Homo sapiens: one gene and its partners. The protein of the gene in region 1 purifies or fractionates together with the protein of each later gene. This does not show direct contact. Each region holds a gene or a part of one and is shown on either strand. Other genes may lie near its edges. The genes, in order: TMEM169, NDUFAF1, MACO1 and SLC38A10.

Region 1 (4,396 bases):
GTGTAGTGTGGTATGTATGGGTATGTGGTGTGTGTGTAGAATGTGTATATATGTGGTGTGTGCATACGGCATGTGGGTGGGTATGTGTAGTGTATATATGTGGAATGTGTGGGGGGCAGCATTTGTGTGCATGTATGCTGTGTGTATGTGTGGTGTGTGTGATGTGTATGTGTGTGTGTGGTGTGTTATGTGTGTATGTTGCATGTATGTGTGATATGTATGGGTATGTGGTGTGTATATGGTATGTGTATGTGTTGTATGTGGTATGTGTGGGGAGGTTGTGTGTGGCATGTGTGTGGTGTATGTGTTATGTATGGTGTTTGGTATATGTGGTGTGGGTATGTGGTGTGTATGTGGTATGTGTGATGTGCATGGTGTGTGGTGTGTGGTGTGTGTATGGGATAGTGTAGTGTGTGTATGTGGTACGTGATTGGGAGGTGGCATGTGTATGTGTGTGTATGGTGTGTATGTAGTATGTGAGAGGGTGTATGTGTATGGTATATGTGGGATGCATGTGTGTATGCGTGCAGCCCCTGGATGTGAGGGCTGGATCAGGCATGTGAGGGGCCCCCTCTCAGAAAGCACAGAACTAGGCATGAGAAGGGAAGGTGGTGGCCGTCCATCAGTCCAGTATCTTCACAGCACTTGTTACCTAGAAATAGGATCATCATTTGCATCATGTCTGTATCAAAGTTCGTCACACTCCTCCGTGCCACAGAGATTGTGCCAAGATTGAGGCCCCAAAAAGCGGAGAGAGTAGGTGAAAAGCTTAACCTGCCTCACAATTTTATCAGGGCCCAGGCACAAGGACTGAGAGTTCATGTGGGAGCAATAACACCAGTGGTCACTCTCCCGAGGGAGACCCACTCAGTCCGCCATTGAATCACTGACTCAGGACTGTGCCAGATGGTGTAAAAAAGGCTACTCTTGTCCTCATGCCCAGCCTGGGAGGGTGCAACATGGAGATGCAATGCCCACTCTTCTGATCTTGACTCTCACCTCCTTTGTACCCTGCAGATATGTGGAACCTGCCTCTGGACAGCCGCTACGTCACCTTAACTGGGACCATCACACGAGGGAAGAAAAAGGGTCAGATGGTGGACATCCATGTCACATTGACAGAGAAAGAGCTGCAGGAACTGACCAAACCTAAAGAGTCATCAAGGGAAACGACGCCTGAAGGAAGAATGGCCTGCCAGATGGGAGCTGACCGTGGGCCCCATGTGGTCCTCTGGACGCTGATCTGCCTGCCTGTGGTTTTCATCCTTTCTTTTGTTGTCTCTTTCTACTACGGCACTATCACCTGGTACAACATCTTCCTCGTGTATAATGAGGAAAGGACCTTCTGGCACAAGATCTCGTATTGCCCTTGCCTCGTTCTCTTCTATCCAGTGCTCATCATGGCCATGGCTTCTTCCCTCGGCCTCTACGCTGCTGTGGTCCAGCTCTCGTGGTCCTGGGAAGCATGGTGGCAAGCTGCCCGGGACATGGAGAAAGGCTTCTGTGGCTGGCTCTGCAGCAAGCTGGGTCTGGAGGACTGTTCTCCCTACAGCATTGTGGAGTTGCTTGAATCCGACAATATCTCAAGCACTCTCTCCAACAAGGACCCCATCCAAGAAGTAGAAACCTCCACGGTCTAAACTCCCAACAACTTACTCCCTCCTCTGGCCCCAGTAGCCTATATATCATCTTAAAATTCCAGCAGATTATTTCTTTAAATTACCCCCTACTCTCCGCAGTTCTTCTGGGAAATCAGAGTCCATACTGATCAGTTTTACCATCTTGAGGGTTCCAGGAGGGCATGGAGCAGACAAGCAATTGTGCCAAAGCAGTTCACCCAATGGACAAACTCTTTTTGATTCCCTGCCCTAAAATCACCATTTATTTAGGACAATGGAACTCTGCTGTGTGTCGTTTTGGGAGCCTGGAAGTGTTACTGGTGCCTGGAACTGAGGGGAGTATGTGACTAAATGTGTCAGGGAGAATAAAGAACCTCGGGGTAACCAAATCCACCAAGATAATAGACAGGGATGGAGTGAGACATTTAGGAAGCTGGACTACCACAGTGTAGCAGAAGGTAAAGATTTGTGTGTATCATTTAGATTTAGATTTAGCTGCATAGAATTAAAACCCTAAAATATCAGTGGCTTAAACAAGATAGAAGTGTATTTCTTTCTTGTGCAGAAGAAGTCTGGAGGCAGACCATCCTGGGACCCTGTGAAGTAATCCAGGTCCCAGGCTTCTTCTATTTCTCTACCATTAGTAGGATGTGACCCTTCTCACCCTTATCCCCAACATCCCAGTGCTGATTACATCTTCAGCCATCACATCCATGTTTCTGATAAAATAGAGGAAAGGGCAGAGAAGCACACACCCTTCCTGTTCAAGGAGACTTCCCAGAAGTCCCACTCGATTCTTCTTATATCTCATTGGCAAGACCTCAGTCACATGATGTCATGAGCAAAAGAGGCTGGAAATGTAGTTGTTTGGCTGGGTAGCTATATTCTCAGCTAAATACTGGGTTCACGCTAATTGGCAAGAAAAAGGAAGAATGGTTATTTGGGTTTTGTTTTGTTTTGTTTTGTTTCGCTTTAGAGACGGAGTCTCACTCTGTTGCCGAGGCTGGAGTGCAGTGGCACTATCTCGGCTCACTGCAACCTTCGCCTCCTGGGTTCAAGCAATTCTTGTGCCTTGGCCTCCCCAGTAGCTGGGATTACAGGTGCGTGCCACCATACCCGGCTAATTTTTGTATTTTTTTTTTAGTAGAGATGGGGTTTCACCATGTGCCCAGGCTGGTCTTGAACTCCTGACCTCAGGTGATCCGCCTGCCTCGGCCTCCCAAAATGCTGGGATTGTAGGCAAGAATGGTTATCTTGGTAGGCAAGTCAGAATCTTTGCCTCACAATGATCATTTAAATACATTCAGAACCCCCAAACTGCTAATATGGTTTTATTTATTTATTTATTCATTCATTTGTTTATTCATTTATTTATTTAGGCCTGAATCTTACACAGAGAATTTATATATAGATATTAGCTACATATACTTTGAATATGCTATACATCGATATTAGCACCTCACGTACTTTGCAATTAAGCTTCTGTAATGTCATGTGATTTGTTTTTGGAAAGGAATAGTGGACAGGAGAGTACAATTTATAATAGTAGCATAACTCTTTGTCCTGGTGGTGGAGGTGGGACGAGGTGGTGATATTTAACCTAGATTAAAGACCAGGAAGGGAGGAATTGCATCTGCCAAAGTTTCCTCCAACAGCGATCAGTAGCCCTAAGTACAAAGAAGCCAGATTTAGCCTTCTGTTGTTTGGCAAAACCTCACTCAGAGCTTTACTCCCTCAGACCTTTCTGAGTTTAACCACAGACATGATCTTTGCTGTGCTGAGAAACTTGTGTCTACCTGGCCTGTAGGGAGTGTAAACTAGATTAATACAGATTAACAGACTCTGAACTTAAAAAAAAAAATCACTCCTAAGGGTGTCCTTCTAATTTCAAAATATCAACTCCTAAGAGGTCAGCAGAATTTGGAGATTTGGGTCCTTATAAGAATAGCTGGTGCTCTTTTCTTGTTCATGTCTCAAAACAAAGCTGTTGAGAGAACTGCTGCGATGAATCAAACCAGAGGAGTTTGTCATGCTCCCCACAGAGAGCCCAGGACATTTGCCTGATGTATGGTGCTGAGCTCCACCTTCAGAGGAACTCTCTCTTTTTTTTTTTTTTAAATAACTATTATTAGCTTGACAAGAAAAAAAAAGTGCCCAACAGTTTTAGTGTTAATCTTGGTGCTCTATGGTGCATTAGCAGAGATATGAACAATTAAATGAAGACAAAGAAAATAAAAATAAAGTCTGATTAACTTTTGCTCATTTTGTCTTTGAGGCTCTTCAAAATTGCTTTGAATGCTATGGTTTGCAGAAAAAGGGTGAGCATGATGGCTGTCCTATATGTATGTAATGATTTTAATATGAATCCTTGTGTCTGGACTCTTTCCATGCTTCACTAATTTTGGGGAATTCTATTTAGGTGGACTGTTTTCACAAACCACACTAGAAACTTGCAACCACATTTGTCCCATTTTTCTGGGGTTGGGGAAACCAATGGGAAAAGCCAAAAAGTTGTGATTAGGACACAGGTAAAGTGGCTGTGGTGCCATGGAAGAGTGTGGGATGATGATGAGATCATACCCAAGAGATACCTAGATAAAGTTGACATGGCCTTCATCCTAGTTGGGCTCATCATCTAGTGGAAGAAATAGGCTTGTAAATTAAAACCATTTCAAAGGGGTTCTATAGAGGTATGTAAAAGCCTAGACTAGAGGAAGGAAAAACAGAACCAAACAGAACCAAAGCATCTCATTTTTGCTCTCAGCAAACACCACAGA
Region 2 (7,886 bases), on another chromosome or scaffold:
GTGGTTTGAATCCCAGCTCTGCTACTTCAACAGCTGTGATAAGCATGTGACTAGCATGTTACTTAACATCTGTTTTCTTACCTGGGAAATAGGTGTAATATGAGTACCTACTTCACAGAATTGTTCTGACAATGAAAAGAGAAAATGCCTGAGAAGTGTTAAACTCAATGTCTAGCCTAGAAGCACTCATTACACCCTTCTTTGGGCCAGTCTTGTACCTAATACCTCCCTCTGCTATAGTTTCTAACTGTGCTGCAGTTATTTGTTTGATGACATGCCCTCTATTGGACTGTGTACCTGTTGAACACTGTCCTATAGTTCAGCAATAATAGCTAGCTTTTTTGTACATTTACCAAATAATTCCAATAATTATGCAAATATTTTACATATATTATTTGATTTAATACTGATTGGAAATGACATTAGGATCCTGCTTAACACAAACTCAGCAGCTTAAAAAAAAATTAAAGAAAAAGCTCTCCTGGCTGGGCACGGTGGCTCACGCCTGTAATCCCAGCACTTTGGGAGGCCGGGGCGGGTGGATCACGAGGACAGGAGATCGAGACCATCCTGGCTAACATGGTGAAACCCTGTCTCTACCAAAAAAAAAAAATCAGCTGGGTGTGGTGGCATGCACCTGTAGTCTCAGCTACTTAGGAGGGCAAGACAGGAGAATCGCTTGAACCCGGGAGGTGGAGGTTGCAGTGAGCTGAGATCACGCCACTGCACTCCAGCTTGGGCATCAGAGTGAGATTCGGTCTCAAACAAACAAACAAAAAAATACCCTCCTGGCCAGGCGCAGTGACTCATGCCTGTAATACCAGCACTTTGGGAGGCCAAGGTGGGTGGATCACTTGAAGTCAGGTGTTGGAGACCAGCCTGGCCAACATGGCGAAACCCTGTCTCTACTAAAACAACAAAACTTAGCTGGGCGTGGTGGCGCACCCCTGTAGTCCCAGCTACTCAGGAGGCTGAGGCAGGAGAATCGCTTGAACCTGGGAGGCAGAGGTTGCAGTGAGCCAAGATTGGGCTGCTGCACCTTGGCCTGGGTGACAGAGCAAGACTCCGTCTCCAAACAACAAAAACAGGCCGGGCGCGGTGGCTCACGCTTGTGATCCCAGCACTTTGGGAGGCTGAGGCGGGTGGATCACCTGAGGTCAGGAGTTGCAGACTAGCCTGACCAATATTATGAAACCTCGTCTCTACTAAAAATACAAAAATTAGGCAGGCATGGTGGCATGCACCTATAATCCCAGCTACTCGGGAGGCTCAGACAGGAGATTCGCTTGAACCCGAGAGGTGGAGGTTGCAGTGAACTGAGATTGCGCCATTGCACTCCAGCCTAGACAACACGAGGAAAACTCCATCTCAAAACAAGCAAACACACAAACAAAAAATGATCCTGCTACCTTCTAAGGTTGGCCAGGGCTGAACAACACTTCTGCCTCTTTTGTCACTGCCTGCAATATAGGGGACTACAGGGCTTCACCCATTCATATTCGGATTCAGAACAGCTTCAATGTCCTCTGGTCCCAGGCTTCTGAATGATGCTCTTACTGTTCATTTCCTTTTAGGCAGGGGCTTCTCTTTGTAGTTGCCTGCTCTTAGTTTCCCTCACTTTGTTCCCTTTGTCATATTATCATTTATGGCATTTGTCAGCCTTATGTCCACAAATAGATAGATGGTCCCCTGTTGTCTCCATGTCTAATTTGGATGGGTTTCAGTTGTTGTTGTTGTTGTTGTTTTCTTTTTTGAGGCAGAGTTTCACTCTTGTCGCCCAGGCTGGAGTGCAATGGCAAGATCTCAGCTTACTGCAACCTCTGCCTCCCAGGTTCAAGCCATTCTCCTGCCTCAGCCTCCCGAGTAGCTGGGATTACGGGTGCTCGCCACCACCCCTGGCTAATTTTTGTATTTTTAGTAGAGACAGGGTTTTACCATGTTGGCCAGGCTGGTCTCGAACTCCTGATCTCAGGTGATTCACCCGACTAGGCCTCCCAAAGTGCTGGCATTACAGGTGTGAGCTACCCTGCCTGGCTGGGTTTCAGTTTTGTTGTGAACAAAGGTATAGTTAAGATTTGGTGGAGCCCACTACCACTGTCTGGGAGGCCAAGGAAGAAGGTGCTACAGACATGGTTGGGTTAACCTACATAATCATTTCCCCTCAGCTCTTTGCCTTTATTTCCTTCCTTTATTTCCTATATTTCCTTCCCCTAGTGACTCTACCTTTTCTTCTGCCTGGCATTGTCATGTCCTTCCTTTCTATTTGAATATTTTTTTCTTTCTTCCAGCCTTCCTTTCTCCACTGGTAATAAATACATATGGGGCTTCCTATACTTAAGCAAACAGCCTGGCACAGTGGCTCACGCCTGTAATCCCAGCACCTTGGATGGCCGAGGTGGGTGGATCAACTGAGGTCAGGAGTTGGAGACCAGCCTGGCCAACATGACGAAACCCTGACTCTGCTAAAAATACAATAATCAGCTGGGTGTGGTGGCATGCACCTCTAATCCCAGCTACTCAGGAGGCTGAGGCAGGAGAATCACTTGAACCCGGGAGGCGGGGGTTGCAGTGAGCCGAGATCACGCCACTGCACTCCAGCCTGGGTGAGGAAGACTGTGGTTCAAAAAAAAAAAAGCAGCAAACAACTAATGATTAGAGACATGCAAATCAAAACCAAAATGAGATACCACTTCACACTCATTAGGATGGCTACTATATTTTAAAAACCAAAAAAACAAGAAACGTGTCAGTGGGCTTGGAAAGAAGGTGTGAAAAGATCAAAGATCAAAAACAGCAAGAGAATGCAACAGGATTTAAAATCAGTAAGAGAAGATTTTAAGGAGAGGAGCCAAGGACAGTCAAGCATTTCCATCCTAGAAGGATGTGGCCATTTACAGAAATAGGGAGACAGGAGGAATTAGTAGGAGGAAAAATGACACATTTAGTTTTAGACATTTAGTTTTCTTTATTGCTCAAGGATATTTCCTAAAAAACAACAACAAAAAGACATTTCGATTTTTTCTTTTTCTGAGACGGAGTCTGGCTCTGTGGCCCAGGCTGGAGTGCAGTGGTGCGATCTCGGCTCACTGCAAGCTCCGTCTCCCGGGTTCACGCCATTCTCCTGCCTCAGTCTCCTGAGTAGCTGGGACTACAGGCGCCCGCCAGCACGCCCGGCCAATTTTTTTGTATTTTTAGTAGAGACGGGGTTTCACCGTGTTAGCCAGGATGGTCTCGATCTCCTGACCTTGTGATCCGCCCGCCTCGGCCTCCCAAAGTGCTGGGATTACAGGCGTGAACCACCGCGCCCGGCCGATAACTTATATTTGAAACTAGAAAAGAGGTAGAGGCAGGATGGGCCATGGAGAGACAGCCCGCATTAAAGGTTGTGGGAAGAGAATAGAAGAGTCAGTGATGGGGGCAGAAAGGTAAGGTTTGAGGGGGCAAGTGTAGAGTCTAGAGAAGCCAAGCCGAATTTGAGGAAGAGGAGGCGGCGCGGAAACTAGTGAAGGAGAAAACATGGAAAGGGCTAGTGTATTTAGTGAGCTCCTTCGGAACCTTAGAGAACAAAGGTGTTACGGAACTATATGCTCTCAAATTCACACTAAGCACTAAATTCCCGCCGCTATGGTACATTCTGGGGAAAGGAAAAACAGCGCAGTCTGGACCCAAGAAAGCTCACAGCGTGGCAAAGGAAGTGAGAAGTGAGTGAAAGATACAATGTTGATTCTGTCTTCCCTGGCAGTAAGAAAAAAAAACAAAAACAAACAATGTTTAAGTGCTTTGGCCGGGCATGGTGGCTCACGCCTGTAATACCAGCACTTTGGGAGGCCGAGGTGGGTGGATCATGAGGTCAGGATTTCGAGACCAGCCTGGCCAACATGGCGAAACCCCATCTCTACTAAAAATACAAAAATTATCCGGGTGTGGTGGCACACACCTGTAATCCCAGCTACTTGGGAGGCTGAGGCAGGAGAATTGCTCCAACCCAGGAGTCGGAGGTTGCAGATCGCGCCACTGCACTACAGCCTGGGCAACAGAGTGAGACTCCGTCTCAAAAAAAAAAAGTGCTTTAAGAGAGGTGTGCACAAGGTACAAACAGATGCCCTGAGCAACTGGCGACCGTGTGGGGCGAGACTCGGGAAGGGCTGGTAGGAGGGGCTGCTGTCCAGGTGCGTGGTGGTCCTCAAGAATTCATGGGGGCAATTCCAGCAGAATCGGCCTTTTGAGGCCTCAGGCAGTTCTTGTGGGGACCGAGGCGACAGATAAGGAAGGAAGGGATACAGGCGCGTTAGCAATAACTGGGTTCTATTTGAAAGACGCAGGGGGCCGGGCTTGGTGGCTCGCGCCTGTAATCTCAGCACTTTGGGAGGCCGAGGCGGGTGGATCACGAGGTCAGGAGATCGAGATCATCCCGGCTAACATGGTGAAACCCCGTCTCTACTAAAAATACAAAAATTAGTCGGGCATGATGGCGCGCACCTGTAATCCCAGCTACTCGGGAGGCTGAGGCAGGAGAATCGCTTGAATCTGGGAGGCAGAGGTTGTAGTGAGCCGAGATCGCGCCACTGCACTCCAGCCTGGGCGACAGAGCGAGAATCCGTCTCAAAAAAAAAAAAAAAAAAAAAGACGCAGGGATGGAGTTTGCCGCCTGAAAGGATACAGGAAGGAGAGGCGAAAAACTTATCTGAATTCTCACTGCTTCCTTACAACTGGCGACCAAGTGGACCAAAAACCTCCAAAAACCTCAGTTGGCTGGGCTACGGGGTCCTTGCTGTCCTTCCTGGGCTTCTGTACTCGGCCGGAACTTTGGTGTTCTGACGCCTTGTTTGGCATCGGAAGGGAAAAGCAGATGGACCTATACGGGTAAAGTGGCTTCTGGGCGGAAGGTACACTATAGGCTCGGGGAGGTAAGCGGCGGCAGGCCGGCGGTTGGTGTGTCCCGGGTGTGGGGAGGCGACAGAGCCCTGGCACTTGAGGGTTGAGGGGGCCTCCCCAGCGCGGCGAACCGTCTAGCCTCCGGAGGCCAGGCCGTGAGTGCGGGAGGTATACGCCAAGGCGGAAGAATTTTGCCACTCACTACCTGTGTGACCTCGGGTAAATTAGCCTTGGAACGTCAGTTTCTTCGTCTCTATAATTGAAATAATAATAGTACCTCTCTCAGGATTGTTGTGAGCCGTCAGTGAAACACTTAGAGCAGTTTCTGGCACATGGTAAGGCATGGATAGCTTTACTAATTCTACTCACTTCTAGCTGCGTGGATTGTGTTGTCAAAACCCACCGTCAACCTCAGGGCGGTATTGTCCAGTTAATAGTTTAGATTTTCTGTTTACTGGTAGAAAAAAAAAAATGAAACAAAGCATTTATAATTAAAGTTATATTATTAGAGAAGTAACACTACGGAGGGTTTGGAAAACATTTTATGAGCTATCATTTGTTTCTCAAATTTCGGTATGTGTAGAGGTAAAATCATTTAAGTGCAACCGGCGCGGGGGAATTTAAATATTATCCATAATTCCGGGACCTCAGATCAACTGTTAATTTTTCCTGGTTCCCTTAACGTTTATAATACATGTGAAAACATACTGTTTACATGGTTTTGATTTATCAACAAACCTTATTGATAATGTCGGCTGGGCGCGGTGGCTCACGCCTGTAATCCCAGCACTTTGGGAGGCCGAGGCGGGCGGATCACTTGAGGTCAGGAGTTCGAGACCAGCCTGGCCAACATGGTGAAACCCTGTCTCTACTAAAAATACAAAAATTAGCTGGGCGTGGTGGCGCACGCCTGTAATCCCAGTGACTGAGGCAAGAGAATTGCTTGAAACCAGGAGGTGGAGGTTACAATGAGCCGAGATCGCACAACTGCACTCCAACTTGGGGGACAGAGCTGGACTCTGTCTTAAAAAAAAAAAAAAAAAAGTTGGGCATGGTGGCGGGCACCTGTAATTTCAGCCACTCGGGAGGCAGAGGCAGGAGAAGCACTTGAACCCGGGAGGCGGAGGTTGCAGTGAGCCAGGGTCGTGCCATTGCACTCCAGCCTGGGTGACAGAGCGAGACTCCATCTCAAAAAAAAAAAAAAAAAAAAAGGTTGGGCGCCGTGGCTGACGCCTGTAATCCCAGTACTTTAGGAGGCCCATGTAGGCGGATCACCTGAGGTCAGGAGTTCGAGACCACTCTGGCCAACATAGTGGAACCTCATCTCTACTGAAAAAACAAAAACAAAAACAAAAATTAGCCGGGCATGGTGGCGCCCGCCTGTAATCCCAGCTATTCAGGAGGCTGAGACAAGAGAATCGCTTGAACCCAGGAGGCGGAGATTGCAGTGAGCGGAGATCTCTAGCCTGGTGACAGAGCAAGACTCCGTCTCAAAAAAAAAAAAAAGTATTGATAATGTCATTTTACCTATTGGTGTCTGTATCCTACAGAAAGGAAATACGTATCTGACTTGTTTCATAGGATTTGTGTGTGGATGGCATGAGATAATATATATCAGGGTGATATGAAAGTGTTAGGAGTAGGCTGGGCATGGTGGCTCACACCTGTAATCACAGTACTTTGGGAGAACAAGGCAGGTGGATCACGTGGTCAGGAGATCGAGACCATCCTGGCTAACACGGTGAAACCCTGTCTCTATTAAAAATCCAAAAAAAAAAAAAAAAAAAAAATAGCTGGGCATGGTGGCGGGCGCCTGTAGTCCCAGCTACTCGCGAGGCTGAGGCAGGAGAATGGCGTGAACCCGGGAGGCGGAGCTTGCAGTGAGCCGAGATCGTGCCACTGCACTCCAGCCTGGGTGACAGAGTGAGACTCTGTCTCAAAAAAGAAAAAAAAAAGTATTAGGAGTGGTATTCATCAGGTGCAGTGGCTCACGCCTGTAATCCCAGGTACTCCAGAGGCTGAGGCAGGAGGATCACTTGAACCCAGGAGTTAGAGACTCGTCTGAGCAACATAACAAGACCTCATCTCTATTTTTTTTTTTTTTTTTTTGAGATGGAATTTTGCTCTTGTTGCCCAGGCTGGAGTGCAATGGCGTGATCTTGGCTCACCACAACCTCCACCTCCTGTTCAAGCTATTCTCCTGCCTTAGCCTCCCAAGTAGCTGGGACTACAGTTGTGCGCCACCACACCGGGCTAATTTTGTATTTTTAGTAGAGATGGGGTTTCTTCATGTTGGTCAGGCTGGCCTCAAACTCCTGACCTTGTCATCCACCCACCTTGGCCTCCCAAAGTGCTGGGATTACAGGCGTGAGCCACTGCGCCTGGCCTTACAATTTTTTATTTTTATTTATTTATTTTTTAGACAGAGTCCTGCTCTGTTGCCCAAGCTGGAGTGCAGTGGCTTGATCTTGGCTCACTGCAGCGTCCCACTCCTGGGTTCAAGCGATTTTCCTGCTTCAGCCTCCCGAGTAGCTGGGATTATAGGTGCTTGCCACCACCCTATAGGTGCCCGTCACCACACCCAGCTAATTTTTGTATTTTTTTTTTTTTTTTTTTTTTTTTTGAGAAGGAGTCTCGCTCTGTCGCCCAGGCTGGAGTGCAGTGGCGGGATCTCGGCTCACTGCAAGCTCCGCCTCCCGGGTTCACGCCATTCTCCTGCCTCAGCCTCCCGAGTAGCTGGGACTACAGGCGCCCGCCACTACGCCCGGCTAATTTTTTGTATTTTTTTAGTAGAGACGGGGTTTCACCGTTTTAGCCGGGATGGTCTCGATCTCCTGACCTCGTGATCCGCCCGCCTCCGCCTCCCAAAGTGCTGGGATTACAGGCGTGAGCCACCGCGCCCGGCCTGTATTTTTTTTTTTGAGACAGAGTTTCACTTTTGTTGCCCAGGCTGGAGTGCGATGGTGCAGTCTTGGCTCATTGCAGCCTCTGCCTCCCAGGTTCAAGCGATT
Region 3 (7,031 bases), on another chromosome or scaffold:
TTTTTTCGTATTTTTTTCGGTACTGTACTCCAGGCCATCATTCTAGTCCACTGACTTGACAGTAATTTTTCACTTGTCCCACCTGGCTCAAATTACTGTAACTTTACAATATATGACATTAGTTTAAATGACAAATATTTGGCTAAAGTATACACAGCCCATAAAACAGGCTACGTCCATAGCACTAGCACCTTTCCTATCATTCACTGCTATGAACAACAATCTGCAAGGCTCAGAGCCATGCAGGAGGGTCAGTCCCCTGGCAATAGAAAGAGGGTTGGGGCTAAAAGGAGGTGTGTAAGTTTCAAAGGACACTAATCTGGCCTATAACCTGAAAAAGTTAAATGAATCTACAGCAAGTTAAATCCTGGTATAAAACATACCAAGGGATTGTCAACATTTCTGGTTTGTATTAGAATCTGGCTACATTAATATGACTTGAAATGAGCTGGACAAGATTAGAACTTCAAATCTTTTTGTCACATAGAGATTTTTCAGATGCAATGAGATTTGATCTATATTAAAAGGCATCATCTCTACACTGCAACACAGAGCACAAGTTTAGCATAAAAGTGGAATTCAAATACAAGGGAAGTCTTTTGTTCCCCCCTTACCTGGACTTTTAGTTCTAGTTCTCTGATTTGGTCTTCTTTCACCTTCATGTCCATCGTGAGCTTCTTGCCCTCTGCTTCTAGTTCTCTGATCCGATTCCGTAAGGTTTCGGTGCATTCTCCCCTTTTGAAAAAGAAGAGAAGGAAATAAAGTGATTTAAAAGACTATAGGTTGGGGCTGGGCCCTGTGACTCAGGCCTGTAATCCCAGCACTTTGGGAGGCCGAGGCAGGCAGATTATTTGAGGTCAGGGGTTCGAGACCAACCTGACCAGCATGGTGAAACCCCGTCTCTACTAAAAATACAAAAAAAATTGGCTGGGCATGGTGGTACATGCCTGTAGTCCCAGCTACTGGGGAGGCTGAGGCAGAAGAATTGCTTGAACCCAGGAGGTGGAGGTTGCAGCGAGTCCAGATCGTGCCACTGCACTCCAGCTTGGGCGTCCGAGTGAGACTCCATCTCAAAAACAAATAAATAAATAAATAAATAAAATTTTAAAAAAGACTATAGGTTGGCCGAGTGCAGTGGCTCACGCCTGTAATCACAGCAATTTGGGAGGCCAAGGCAGGTGGATCACTTGAGGTCAGGAGTTCAAGACCAGCCTGGCCAACACAGTGAAACCCTCTCTCTACAAAAATTAGCTGGGTGTAGTGGCACACATCTGTAATCCCAGCTACTCGGGAGGCCGAGGCAGGAGAATTGCTTGTACCTGGGAGGCAGAGGCTGCACTGAGCTGAGATGGTGTCACAGCACGTTAGCCTGGGTGACAAAGTGAGACTCTGTCTCAAAAAAAAGAAAAAAAAAAGACTATAGGTTTACTTGTATTGTGGGATTTATATTTCTTTTAATTTCTTTTATACTCCAGGGTCTGTCAGGTTTTAGCTTTTGGCTCAGTCTGCTCAGTTCTCTGTGTCCTTTGATAATTTCAATAATACTCTAAAATAACTGGGCTGGGCATGGTGGCTCATGCCCGTAATCCCAGCACTCCCAAGGCCAAGGTGGGAGGACTGCTTGAGCCCAGAGTCTGAGATCAGCCTGGGCAACACAGAGAGACCCTGTCTCTACAAAAAATTTAAAAAATAGCTGGGCATAGTAGCACATGCCTGTAGTCCCAGCTACTCAGGAGGCTGAGGCAAGAGGACAACTTGAGCCCAGGAGTTTCAGGTTATAGTAAGCTATGACTGCACCATTGCACTCCAGTCTGGGTGACAGAATGATATCCTGTCTCAAAATACATACATATATACAATAATTATTACTGAGTGTCTAGATGAGCCAGACACTAAGGTACTTTACCCATACTACCTTCTTCAATCCTTATAACAACCTAGGGTATATTTATCCCATTTTCCAGATAAGAAAACTGAGGCTACATAGATAAAATACTAGTTCAAGGTTACCTAGCTTTTAGGTCTTAGAATAGGGATAAGAACTGAGATTTTCTGGCTTCCCAATCCAGCAAACTTCCCACCAGGCCATGAGACTTGAGACAATACACACAAAGCCAGATAGAACTGAACATGTACTATGTCCAGCAGGGGGCGGTGAACTAGAAAAAAATTTTCCCCCCACTTTTGAGGGGCTACGCATTGGGACTTTTGTCTTTCTTGTCATAAAGTTGCCACAAGACTGGAGTAAACAGAAAAATAAGGGCACACTGTTGAGCTGCTTCTCAGGGCTATCATAAGGTTGAGCTAAAAGAGATGATGGCAATGGCCAGTCCAAAGCTGGTACTGTCTAGGTTCCAGAAACAGCCCAATGAAGAAAGTAGGTGTTCTCTGCCTACCAAAACGGAAGGTCCAGTCAGAGATTTATGCCCTGAGATTTACTGAATAAATTATGGCAGGCCTGGTGTGGTGGCTCACGCCTGTAATCCCAGCACTTTGGGAGGTCAAGGTGGGCAGATCACCTGAGGTCAGGAGTTCGAGACCAGCCTGCCAAGATGGTGAAACCTCGTCTCTACTAAAAATACAAAAAGTTGCTGGGCACGGTGGCAGGAGCCTGTAATCCCAGCTACTTGGGAGGCTGAGGCAGGAGAATCGCTTGAACCTGGGTGGCAAAGGCTGCAGTGAGCTGAGATCGCGCCACTGCACTCCAGCCTGGGTGACAGAGTTAGACTCCGTCTCAAAAAGAAGGAAAAAAAGAATAAGTTATGAAAAACAAGGACTATCCAGGGATAAGATAAATAAGCTTAACTGGAAGCAAAAGGGATTTGGGGTAGACACTGAAATCAACTTACTGATTCTCAGGCATGGGAGACACTAAGCAATATCGTTAAGGAACTGCTATGTCCTCCTGAGTGGAATTTTTCAGAAAGGGCAGGTGCTGTATGAATTGAGGAGAGAGGAGAGCAGTCATCACTAGATGACTGTTCAAGAACATCTCCTGCAAGTTTAAGTGCTTCAGAATGCAAATACATCTTCAAACAAACAAACAATCCCACATTGTAGGCAGGCTAGTCAAGGGCCTTGTAAGTCTGTATAGATGCTGATGGGCCAAGCCAGCTCAGCCATCTGCTGGGGGGAGGCAGGATCACACAGGAGAGAGTTCTCACTTGCTGTTATTTCCTAAAAGGTGAAATGATTCACCAATTATTCTGCAAATGCCAGAACCCACAAAGAAGGCTATCAACATGCCAAAAGTTAAATTACTTAACTTTAATTACGACAAAGCAAAATTCAAGGAAAAATTACAGTTGAATTATACCACGTAGATACAAATTAGGATGGAATTTAAAAGTGAAATAAATAATAATTTACCCTCGCTCTATATCTGCAAACACCTAACTGATTCCCACATGCAGAGGGACTTCACTAGTCAAGAAAACAAAGGAAAAAGTGATAAGTGAAGTAGAAGCAAAAAGAAAAAAAAAGCTCTTAACTATCTAATAGTTTTTGGAATACTTGCACACAGGGGTACTTTCCAGTGGTATAGGAGGTAGTCCCCAATTTTCATTATGCCATAAATGTAATTCCATCTAGTAGAGACTTATGTTTCACTTTTTTTTTCCATTTCATTTGACAGTTTGCTGATATCCATTTGAGCAGCCAGTACACAGTGCTTGGGCAACCAAGATTTTATCTTTCTTCCATTTTAAGATAAAAACTTCAGAAACACATATACCTAAGAGTGGAGAGTAATGATAGCTCTCTAAAGGGAACGAACTTCCAGATAGAATCTCTCAATGCATTTAGTAATCATCAGTCTGACAAAAAGTGACTGGAAACCTTTTTATGAGCAGTACTTTGCCTCCCAGGTATGGGAAACATGGTGATTCCCTCATCCCACTTTATAGATGAGGTCACTGAGGGATAAAGCTGTTATAAGATAGTGCAAGCTTGCACACATGGAGTTTAAACCAGTTAATAAAACAGTACTTAAAAGCAATCCATCCGTGCATGATTGCTGTACGTCCAATCCTGCCCAAGGCACCAAATTCCCATGTCTTTGTTGGTAAAGGAAAGCCAACCTTGGATTAAACACTCAGGTGACATGGACATACCTAGATGCAGCAGCAAACGCAACAGCCCGGGCAGCAGTGGCTTCTTCTAACTTCTTCCTCTTTTTCTCTTCCATTAACTGTTTCTCTACAAAACTTCGGGCTTCCTGCTCAGCTTTTAGCTTTTTCTCCAACTGGCTGATATTCTGCTTGTCTTTTTGCTTCATTTGCACAGCATTATGTAACCTATATGGAAATGATTGTCATATAAAGTCTTAAAATTACAAATGCCCACTATAAACCCTTGAGAAACATCTCTTTATCACCTTAAGGCCAATTAAACAGGAGGTTTGAACAGCAAATCAAAAATGTCAATGCCCAGAATGCCTGAGGAAAACACACTGTTATTCTTTAATAATTCCTAAACACCAATAAACAAGCTGCCTTACAAAACAGAGATTAAGACCTAGCCTCTGCTCTGTTCAAGTAAGTGATCTACAAAAGGTCATCCAGAAAACAGGGTAAAACAAATTTTGAACAGAGGGGAAGATAATTGTAGAACTAATTCTAATGTTCCAGAGCACCCTGAAAGAACTTCAGTCCCACCAAAGAACCACTGATGGGACCAGCCCCAGTGAAACTAAGGTAAGGGGTGGAAAGGGGAAGGTTTTTATTTTTCCTGAATACAATTTTGCTGTAGCCTACTACAGCTTTTCCTTTCCAGCTCAGGATGTTTGCTCACAGTGTCCCCAAATCCTCTTTTAGAGTCACAGGATGCTTAATTTCAGATAGAAATTTCAGCCATATTTCCTGCTTACTACCACCCCCAGCTTTACCTATCAGCATGAGGTGAGTTTATCACTGGGATGTTCTCTACATATCAATGCTAGAACCACCACAAATGCTGGTCAGAGGCAATGGAGAGGTTATTTGCCTGTAATGCCCTAGCTTTTGAGTTACATTCCTTAAAAATGTTGAACTCCTCTTTCAACAGGGAAAGCCCAGAAAGCCAACAGCCTGTAATGATCATCACTACCACGGGCACACATTGCTGGGAGATTTAAAAAAAGAAAAAAGGACAGACCTACACTGAGTTAAGAAGTAATTCCAGAATGAACTAATCAAAAGCCTAAATGAATTCACACAGAAGACCTGGCTTTCTGCCTGCCTTTTCAAATAAAATCAAAGTTCAATGTCATCTTTTAGTTCTGGAAATAAAAGTAAATATAGTCAAATCCTCTAGAAATTTTCACTCAAAGGAGCAAAATTTTCAAAATGTGACAGAACTACTTCTTGTCAATTTTACTATCCAAAAACTCAATAACTATTTTAAACTAAGAAGTTATTAAATGAGAGAAGACAAAAACAGTAATATTAATAAACTGTTTTGTGGCAATGAAATAAGTTTTTATAGATTTTATAAACATGTTGAATATCTGGTACTAAATAAAGTATTTTAAACATTTTATTTAAAAACCTCTCAGCAGGTCTCTGTCACCATAAATCTTGTGCTCCAACCCCTGGCAACAGGAGAAGCAGTGAAGCTGCCGGGCTTACGGCCAAAGGCCTGAAAGGTGCACGTACTTGTTCTGCAGCAGCTCGTTCTCCTGCCGAAGCTGGCCCATTTCTGAGCGGATCCCTCGCTCGGTGCTCGAAAGGGAGCTGATCTGACTGCGGAGCTCTTGTTCCACTTGTCTGCTGGCTTGCAGGTCAGCCTTTAACTTTTTAATGTCTTGTTCCAGCCTAGGAGAATGAGAAATGCAGCATTTTCATCTAGGTGAGGGCACCCACAGAGCTGGGAGGGACCTGGTGGGGGTCCTGGACTGCTGGGTGAATGGCAGAAAAAGGACCCCGCTGGCAGTTCCTGCCATGATGAGGACTCCTGTCTGCAACTGGGTTAATTTTGTTGAATGATTCCACCTGGGTCCCTACCTCTTCCTACTGGGGTGTAACTTTCAACTTCCCCCTGTTTATGAATAGTGACAGGTGAGTATGGTGCTTGTGAATATCCATCCGAGCTGCTGATAAAGGAGAAAGGGACAGCAGAGAGGGTGGCTGAAGACTAAAGGCTCCCTTCTGGTGGCTTTTCATGCCCTCAGCAAGGGAAATATGTTCAAACAACTAGCACATGACCTACCACTTAATGCTTTGTGATATTTTGATAAATCAGAATCTACTGTCTGAGACTGCGTCCCACCATGGGCCTAGAAGAAAACGGTCTGCGACGACCTCCAGAAATTGCAGCATCCTTGCTGAATGACGTTCACAACTCTGGTGATTGCGGCAGAAGAGCTCACGAGACTCAATAACAATGAAAAAAGGAACAAATTACATGCTCTAAGAATCATAAGAGAACTCCATCTGTAAAATGAAGCCTATCTTTTCTCGTCAATTCCTTACTCTTGTTCCATCTATTTTCTTTACTGCAGTAATAGTTTCACTTTAAGTGACAGGTATTGGAGACCTACTATGCATATGTAGTGCTGAAAATGGTCAACAAAAACTATCGGCCAGGCGCAGTGGCTCATGCCTGTAATCCCAGCACTTTGGGAGCCCGAGGCAGGCGGATCACCTGAGGTCAGGAGTTCAAGACCGGCCTGGCCAACGTGGTGAAACCCCATCTCTACTAAAAGTACAAAAATTAGCTGGGCATGGTGGCGCGTGCCTGTAATCCCAGCTACTCAGGAGGCTGAGGCAGGAGAATCACTTGAACCCAGGAGGTGGAGGTTGCAGTGAGCTGAGATCATGCCACTGCACTCCAGCCTGGGTGACAAGAGTGAGACTCTGTCTCAAAAAACAAAAAACAAACAAACGAAAACTATAAAATCAAGTCTCTTTCTTCATGGGAAAACTTCACAATTAGGAACAAAGAAATAGGAACCAAGAAATACATAATTTAAATGATTAAACAATAAGACAAGGAAGGCCATGATTAAATATATGCCAGAAGGAATAATAACAACAGCTACTATTTAATGAGAA
Region 4 (7,044 bases), on another chromosome or scaffold:
ACAAGCAAAAATGAGTAAGCATTTCACAGAAGAAAAATGGACAATAAAAATATGAATAAATAATTCACCTAATTTGTAATAAGAACAAATTAGAGCCACAAAGAGATTCCATTTCATTCACCGGACTGGCCAAACTGACAATAACCAAATGTTGGAGCAGAGGCCCACAAGCTAAGCCCTGAGGCCGCACTGGGCCAGCTGCTGTTTTTGTAAATAAAGTTTTATTGGAACACAGAGATGCCCACTTGTTTACATATTGTCTCTGGCTGCTTCTGATCTGCCATGGCAGAACTGAATATTTGTGAGACCATTTGGCACTGCGAGAGACTAATGACACAACTGAATATTTGCGAGAGACCATTAGGCCCGCAAAGCAAAAAATATTTACTGTCTGACTCTTAATAGAAAGTTTGCCAACCTTTGCTGTAAACCAGGAAGAGCTCTTATAGCTACTTTGAAGAGCAATTTGGCAAGATCTAGTAAAGTCATTTAGGTATGCATACGCATACTCTGCAGTTCCACTTGTAGGTGTTTACCCTAGAGAGACTTGAACAAACACACGTTCAGGAGACAAATCTGTTCACTGGATCACTGTCTCTGAGGCAAGTGACTGGACACAACTCAGGTGCCCTCGGCAGGAGAATGGATGCGGATCTGGGCTATTTAAGTAACGGAGTTCCACAGAGCAGCAAGAATGAGACTCAGAGCACATGCAACATGATGGCAATTCTTGTGAACAAAGTTGAACTGGCCGGGTGTGGTGGCTCATGCCTGTAATCCCAGCTCTCAGGGAGGCAGAGGCAGGAAGACGGCTTGAGCCCAGGAGTTCGAGACCTGCCTGGGCAATACAGTGAGACCCCGTTCTCCACAAAAAGGAAAAAAAAAAGACAAAAAAAGAAATTTAAGTGTGACAAAGTTGAGTGAAAAAGAAAGTTGCAGAATAGCACATATATGTAATTCAATTCTTACAATAGTCCAAAATGCAAAGGTGCCCCATCCCAATACACTACTGAACTAGGTAGGCTACAGCTTTGGGTTCATGAAACAGAGTCCAAAATCATGGTGAGCGCAAGGAGCAGGTTTGTCTCTCCCTCCCAGAGCAGCTGGGAGGAGGTAGTCGTGGATGGGCATGGTGGCTTGGCTCCATGAGTTGTCCAGGGATCCAGGATCCTTCTAGCTTGGTGCTCCACTCTGCCACGGTATCACCCTTGTCTGCACTGTCCGAGATGGCTTCCTACCATCGTGTCTAGGTTCCAAACAGCATGATGAAGGAGCGGCAGACCCCCTCCTAAGAAATGACCTAGAAGTTTCTCCTGTCATTTCTGCTTCTTATTGTCCAAAACTTGGTCACATAGCCAGCCCTACCTGCAAGGGACACTGGCAAGTGTATTCTTTTTTTTTTTTTTTGAGACGGAGTCTCACTCTGTCGCCAGGCTGGAGTGCTGTGGCGCGATCTCGGCTCACTGCAACCTCCGACTCCCTGGTTCAAGCGATTCTCCTGCCTCAGCCTCCTGAGTGGCTGGGATTACAGGCACACACCATCACGCCCGGCTAATTTTTGTATTTTTAGTAGACAGAGTTTCACCATATTGGCCAGGATGGTCTCGATCTCCTGACCTCGTGATCCACCCACCTTGGCCTCCCAAAGTGCTGGGATTACAGGCGTGTGCCACCGCGCCCAGTCTTTTATTTATTTTTTTGAGACAAAGTCTTGCCCTGTTGCCCAGGCTGGAGTGCAATGGCACGCTCTTGGCTCACGGCAACCTCTGCCTCCCGGGTTCAAGCGATTCTCCTGGCTCAGCCTCCCAAGAACCTGGGATTACAGGTGCGCGCCACCACGCCTGGCTAATTTTTTGTATCTTTAGCAGAGATGGGGTTTCACCATGTTTGCCAGGCTGGCCTCAAATTCCTGACCTCGTGATCTGCCTGCCTCGGCCTCTCAAAGTGCTGGGATTACAGGTGTGAGCCGCCATGCTCGGCTGGAAGTGTATTTTTTATCCTAGGCAGTCATACGTGCAGGCCAATTCCTATTAATTTGGAAAATGGAATAAACGAATATTAAGAGACAGAGAGTCAGCTGGGCGCAGTGGCTCACGCCTGTAATCCCAGCACTTTGGGAGGCCGAGGTGAGCAGATCGATTGAACCCAGGAGTTTGAGACCAGCCTGGACAACATGACAAAATCCCATCTCTACAAAAAAAGTGAAAATTAGCTGGGCATGGTGGCACACACCTGTAGTTTCAGCTACTGAGGGCCTGAAGTGGGAGGATCACTTTAGCCCAGGAGGGAAAGGCTGAAGCAAGCTGAGATTGTGCCACTGCACTCCAGACTGGGTGACAGAGTGAGACTCTGTCTCAAAAAAAAAAAAAAAAGAGACAAATAGTCTTCCCCATAATTGTTTAGGGATATATCCATATATGGTAAACCTTTAAAGAAAAGTAATGAATTGATGGAATCTGGATTGTGATGTCTCAGGATAGCAGGGAAGAGGGGAAGAAGGTGCTGGAACTGGGGAGGAACTGAAAGGGAGGATCTAAGTCTTCGGTAATATTTTGTTCTTAAAGCTCAATAGCGGGTCCATGGTATTTGCTATTTGTGAAAACATACATGTAAATTGCCCAGCCTACCTCGCATGCATAACATTTGATGAAAATTACATAATAAAAAGGAGGTTATGGAATGTGTATGCCATTTCATTTATATAAAAGTAAATGGGCTGGGTGCGGTGGCTCATGCCTGTAATACCAGCACTTTGGGAGGCCGAGGTGGGCGGATCACCTGAGGTCGGGAGTTTGAGGCAAGCCTGGCCACCATGGTGAAACCTGGTCTCTACTAAAAATACAAAAATTAGCCGGGTGTGGTGGCGGGAGCCTGTAATTCCAGCTACTTGGGAGGCTGAGGCATGAGAATAGCTTGAACCTGGGAGGTGGAGGTTGCAGTGAGCCAAGATCACACCACTGCATATACAGCCTGGGCGACAGAGCAAGACTCTGACTGAAGAAAAAAAAAAAAAAGAACGCAGGCATTTGTTATTTTGCCTGCGTATTTAATTAGTCTTTACCCAGGCATTTCCTCCTGTTCTCCTGAAGGTGGGGCACAGCCTTACTTGGTGGCTGCACTGCCAGTGCCTGAGGAACGGGCCTCTGTTCTAAGACACCTGGTCCTGCAGGTGCTGCAGACACGGCCTCCTTTCCTCCGCCGTCCTCCCCCAGCAGCCTGGAATCACTTGCTGCTTCCCAGCCATTCGGTCTACGCGCTCATTCATTAGACTCAGAGTGAGCAGCTAGGTGCCAGGAATCCACAGATCTATCGGGACCCTTCTCTGTTCTCTCCTCTCCCCGGTCTCCATTTCTACCCGAGGAATTCTCATTTGTCCTTCAAGCTCCAGCCTAGAAGCCACCTCCTTCTGGAAGCCCTCCCGGGTTTCCCTGTTCATGTAAGCCTCCACCTCTCCTGTCCCCTCCAGGAATGTCCCTTGCTCTTTTCGTGTGAAAAGGTGAAGTTCAACATTGCCACTGATCTGGGCGCAGTTCGGCAGGGCACCGCCTCCCCTTGGAGCTGTGTGGCCTTAGCGGAGTGGCCGAGCCTCTCTGTGCCCAGCGTTTCATTCCTACCTCCTAGGTGCTAATTCCTCACAACAGACTATTTTTCGGCTGAGGCAGTCAGGGCCCCCGCCCCCGTGCCCTGGCGCCAAGCACTCGCCCCAGAATCGGTCCTGGGAATAAAGGTCAAAAAGGAACCCTTAAACCCGCTCCTCCCCGGAAGGCACAGCGCCTCCCCTTCTCTCCAGCCCGCGACTGCCCATCCAAACCGAGGCCTCGCGGGGCGAGTCCCTTGTCCTCCAGCTCGTTGAACTGGGGCCCCGGGCACAGGTCGGCTGGACCAGCTTGGCGAACCGGACAGCTGCGAGACCCTCAGGTGCCCACCGGCCCAGTTTCCGCCCGCCCCTCCGGGCCCGCCTCTCATTGGCTCGCGTCCCACCAAACCCTACCCCCTGGCCGTCACTTCCGGGCAACGGAGCCCGTGGAAGGCGGAAGTGTGAGCGCCGCGGCGGCAGCTGAGTTGGGCTGAGGTGTCCCTAGCTGGCTCTGCGGCTCTTCCGGGTCTGGGCTCGGAGATTCACAGGCGGCCCGCGAGGCCGAGCGAGGGACGCATGGCCCTGAGGCGGCCGCAGGGCTTGGCGGGGTCCGGAGGTTGACCTCGCCCCCGCAGCCGGCCTTCGAGGCTGCCTCCTCCAGGCAGCCTCTGGGGCCCGCGCCCGCGCCTGCTCAGGCTCCCGTGTTCAGGCTGCCCATCCCCTCCCCACCGGCGTCCCGGACGTTGGGACCTGTGACCGTGGCCTCGGGCTGGGCTTCCAAAGCCGGCCGCAGCCCGGCGACCCCCGAGGCCTCTCGCCCCGGGCCCCTAGACCTCTCACTATGACCGCGGCCGCCGCCTCCAACTGGGGGCTGATCACGAACATCGTGAACAGCATCGTAGGGGTCAGTGTCCTCACCATGCCCTTCTGCTTCAAACAGGTGAGTCCGGTGGGCCCGGAGATCACCGCCCTCGCCTCCCCCGCAGAGGGGGCGTCTGGCTGGGTCGTCCTGGTTAAAGTTCCCGCCGGGGCAGGGCTTCGCTGGGCGGGTGCAGGCGGCCGCGGGCGGGGCGACCCTCTGGGTCCCGGCGCAGTTCCCGTAGAGAATCCGTGGATGAGAAGCGCACGGCGTTGGCCCTGGCAGCCCTTGTCAGCCCGGGCCGGAAAGTTCCCCACACTCAAAAACTCGATACCGAAGCAAAGTGTAACAAAGCAAAATGATCCTCCAGAATCGGAAGGGAACGGTGGGACTCCGTATTTTTACATTTTATCGTGTTTTTAAAAACTCTGACCCAACTGCACCTGTCTTCAGAAGCACACAACTCACCACTCCCAGGCTTCGACACTAGATAGGGACCTTGGTTGCAAGGTGATTAAAAACATCCACCAGGTTATACACCTAAGATCTGCGTTTCACAAAAACCGCACATTTGGCAGGGGGTGGTGGCTCACACCTGTAATCCCAGCACTTTGGGAGGCCGAGGCGAGTGGATCACCTGAGGTCAGGAGTTCGAGAACTGCCTGACCAACATGCTGAAACCCCATCTCTACTGAAAATACAAAAATTAGCCGGGGGTGGTGGCACATGCCTGTAATCCCAGATACTTGGGAGGCTGAGACAGGAGAATAGCTTGAACCTGGGAGGCGAAGGTTTCAATGAGCCGAAGGTTGCAGTGAGCCGAGATCACGCCATTGCACTCCAGCCTGGGCGACAGAGGGAGACTCCGTCTCAAAAACAAAAACAAAAAACTGCACATTTGATCTAATGTGTGCAGACGTTACCACAGTTGGAAAAAATCTCAAATACAAAAAGTTTAGCGTCATTCCAGCATTGAATAACACATGAAAGAAAATGGCCATTTCTAAGTGTCATCTGTTTAATCTACAATAAACAAGCATTTAGTGCTTTGGAAAAGAAAGGCTGACTGAAACGTTACCAAGTAGGTAGAAAAATGAAAACAACATGTATATTTTGAAACAAAGTGGCACCAGTAGTTTAATTTTAGATTAGCTTAGCAAACACTGTGTTTTTCATATTCATTATCTTTGGAATAAAAATATCCAAAAAATTTTTTCAGCCTGGGCAACATAGTAAGACCCCGTCTCTACAAAAAAAATTAAAAGTTAGCTGGGCATGGTGGTGCATACCTGTAGTCTCAGCTGCTCGGGAGGCTGAGGCAGAAGGATCACTTGAGCCCAGGAGTTTGAGATTACAGTGAGCTATGATTGCACCACTGCACTCCAGCCTGGGCAACACAACAGTACCCCATCTCTAAAAAAAAAACAACTTTTTTTTGATCAAGGAATTTTCAAACCCTCCCGTGCAGCCCTCCAGGCTGTTGTGTCTGAGTTGTTTGCCTGATATGGTTGGTGAGCCTGTCAGGGGAAGACAGGGCTACATGCCTCCAGAGCCCCCCGGGCAGCATCTGGTCTGGGCGTGGAGAATCCCAGCTTTCTGCCAGCCACCTCTGGGTGTTTCTGGACTGACTCCATGTCCCAGTGTCCACTGTGACTTGCCTGGCAGCAGAACTGCATTCTGGCATGTGGAGCAGTAGCTGGTCCTTCTCCTGCAAGTCAAAGACTGTTATCTTTGTTTTTTCAAGACGGAGTCTCGCTCTGTCACCCAGGCTGGAGTGCAGTGGTGCAGTCTCGGCTCACTGCAACCTCTGCCTCCAGGGTTCGAGTGATTCTCCTGCCTCAGCCTCCCAAGTAGCTGGGATTACAGGCATGTGCCACCACGCCGGCTAATTTATTTATTTATTTATTTATTTATTTGTATTTAGTAGAGACAGGGTTTCCCCATGTTGGTCAGGCTGGTCTCGAACTCCTGATCTCAGGTGATCCACCCACCTCGGCCTCCCAAAGTGCTAGGATTACAGGCGTGAGCCACCGTGCCTGGCCCCAAATGCTGTCATCTTTGATGCCTGTCGGTGAAGTGCCACCGTGGAAGGGGCTCTGGTTTAGACACCTGTGAAAGTACATCTTAGGGCCCAGACGATCCAGCTATCTCGAGCCTTGGACCACCTGCCATGTGGTGGACATTAGGCCCCTGCCAGAGCATGTGCTGATTAGCCGGGCATCTGCACAGACCTGTCAGGAAGTGAAGGACTAGAGACGTCCTTCTGAGTCCTGAGGGCTGCCCAGAGGGAGGCCCAGTTGCTCTGATCTGGCCGCAGCGTCTCCTCCACGGCAGCCTTCTTGGACTGGGGCGCAGGGAGACGCCAGCAGGCGATTTGGGGATGTGTGTGTTTAGTGTTTGGCAGCCTTGGCATTGAAAAACTTTGGATTAGTGTTTTTTTTTTTGTTTTAGTAGTTTTGATATATTTATATATATACATAGCTGGGCGTGTTGGCTCACGCCTGTAATCCCAGCACTTTTGGAGGCTGAGGAGGGTGGATCACGAGGTCAGGAGTTCAAGACCAGCCTGGCCAAGATGATAAAACCCCATCTCTACTAAAAATACAGA

Evidence for each region.
Region 2: the proteins of TMEM169 (region 1) and NDUFAF1 purify together in Homo sapiens (co-immunoprecipitation; 2 studies listed by BioGRID and IntAct, with this or other methods). This does not show direct contact.
Region 3: the proteins of TMEM169 (region 1) and MACO1 purify together in Homo sapiens (co-immunoprecipitation; 2 studies listed by BioGRID and IntAct, with this or other methods). This does not show direct contact.
Region 4: the proteins of TMEM169 (region 1) and SLC38A10 purify together in Homo sapiens (co-immunoprecipitation; 2 studies listed by BioGRID and IntAct, with this or other methods). This does not show direct contact.

What each region holds. Positions count from the first base shown.
Region 1 is NC_000002.12:216,098,903-216,103,298, forward strand, and holds the end of TMEM169 (transmembrane protein 169), read left to right. Parts: intron 1-1,017; coding exon 1,018-1,640; 3' UTR 1,641-3,881; downstream 3,882-4,396.
Region 2 is NC_000015.10:41,399,468-41,407,353, reverse strand, and holds the start of NDUFAF1 (complex I intermediate-associated protein 30, mitochondrial precursor), read left to right. Parts: upstream 1-4,857; 5' UTR 4,858-5,210; intron 5,211-7,886. UniProt on the Homo sapiens protein: As part of the MCIA complex, involved in the assembly of the mitochondrial complex I.
Region 3 is NC_000001.11:25,482,877-25,489,907, reverse strand, and holds part of MACO1 (macoilin), read right to left. Parts: intron 5,793-7,031; coding exon 5,634-5,792; intron 4,296-5,633; coding exon 4,113-4,295; intron 736-4,112; coding exon 615-735; intron 1-614. UniProt on the Homo sapiens protein: Plays a role in the regulation of neuronal activity.
Region 4 is NC_000017.11:81,292,296-81,299,339, reverse strand, and holds the start of SLC38A10 (solute carrier family 38 member 10), read left to right. Parts: upstream 1-4,032; 5' UTR 4,033-4,418; coding exon 4,419-4,517; intron 4,518-7,044. UniProt on the Homo sapiens protein: Facilitates bidirectional transport of amino acids. May act as a glutamate sensor that regulates glutamate-glutamine cycle and mTOR signaling in the brain. The transport mechanism remains to be elucidated.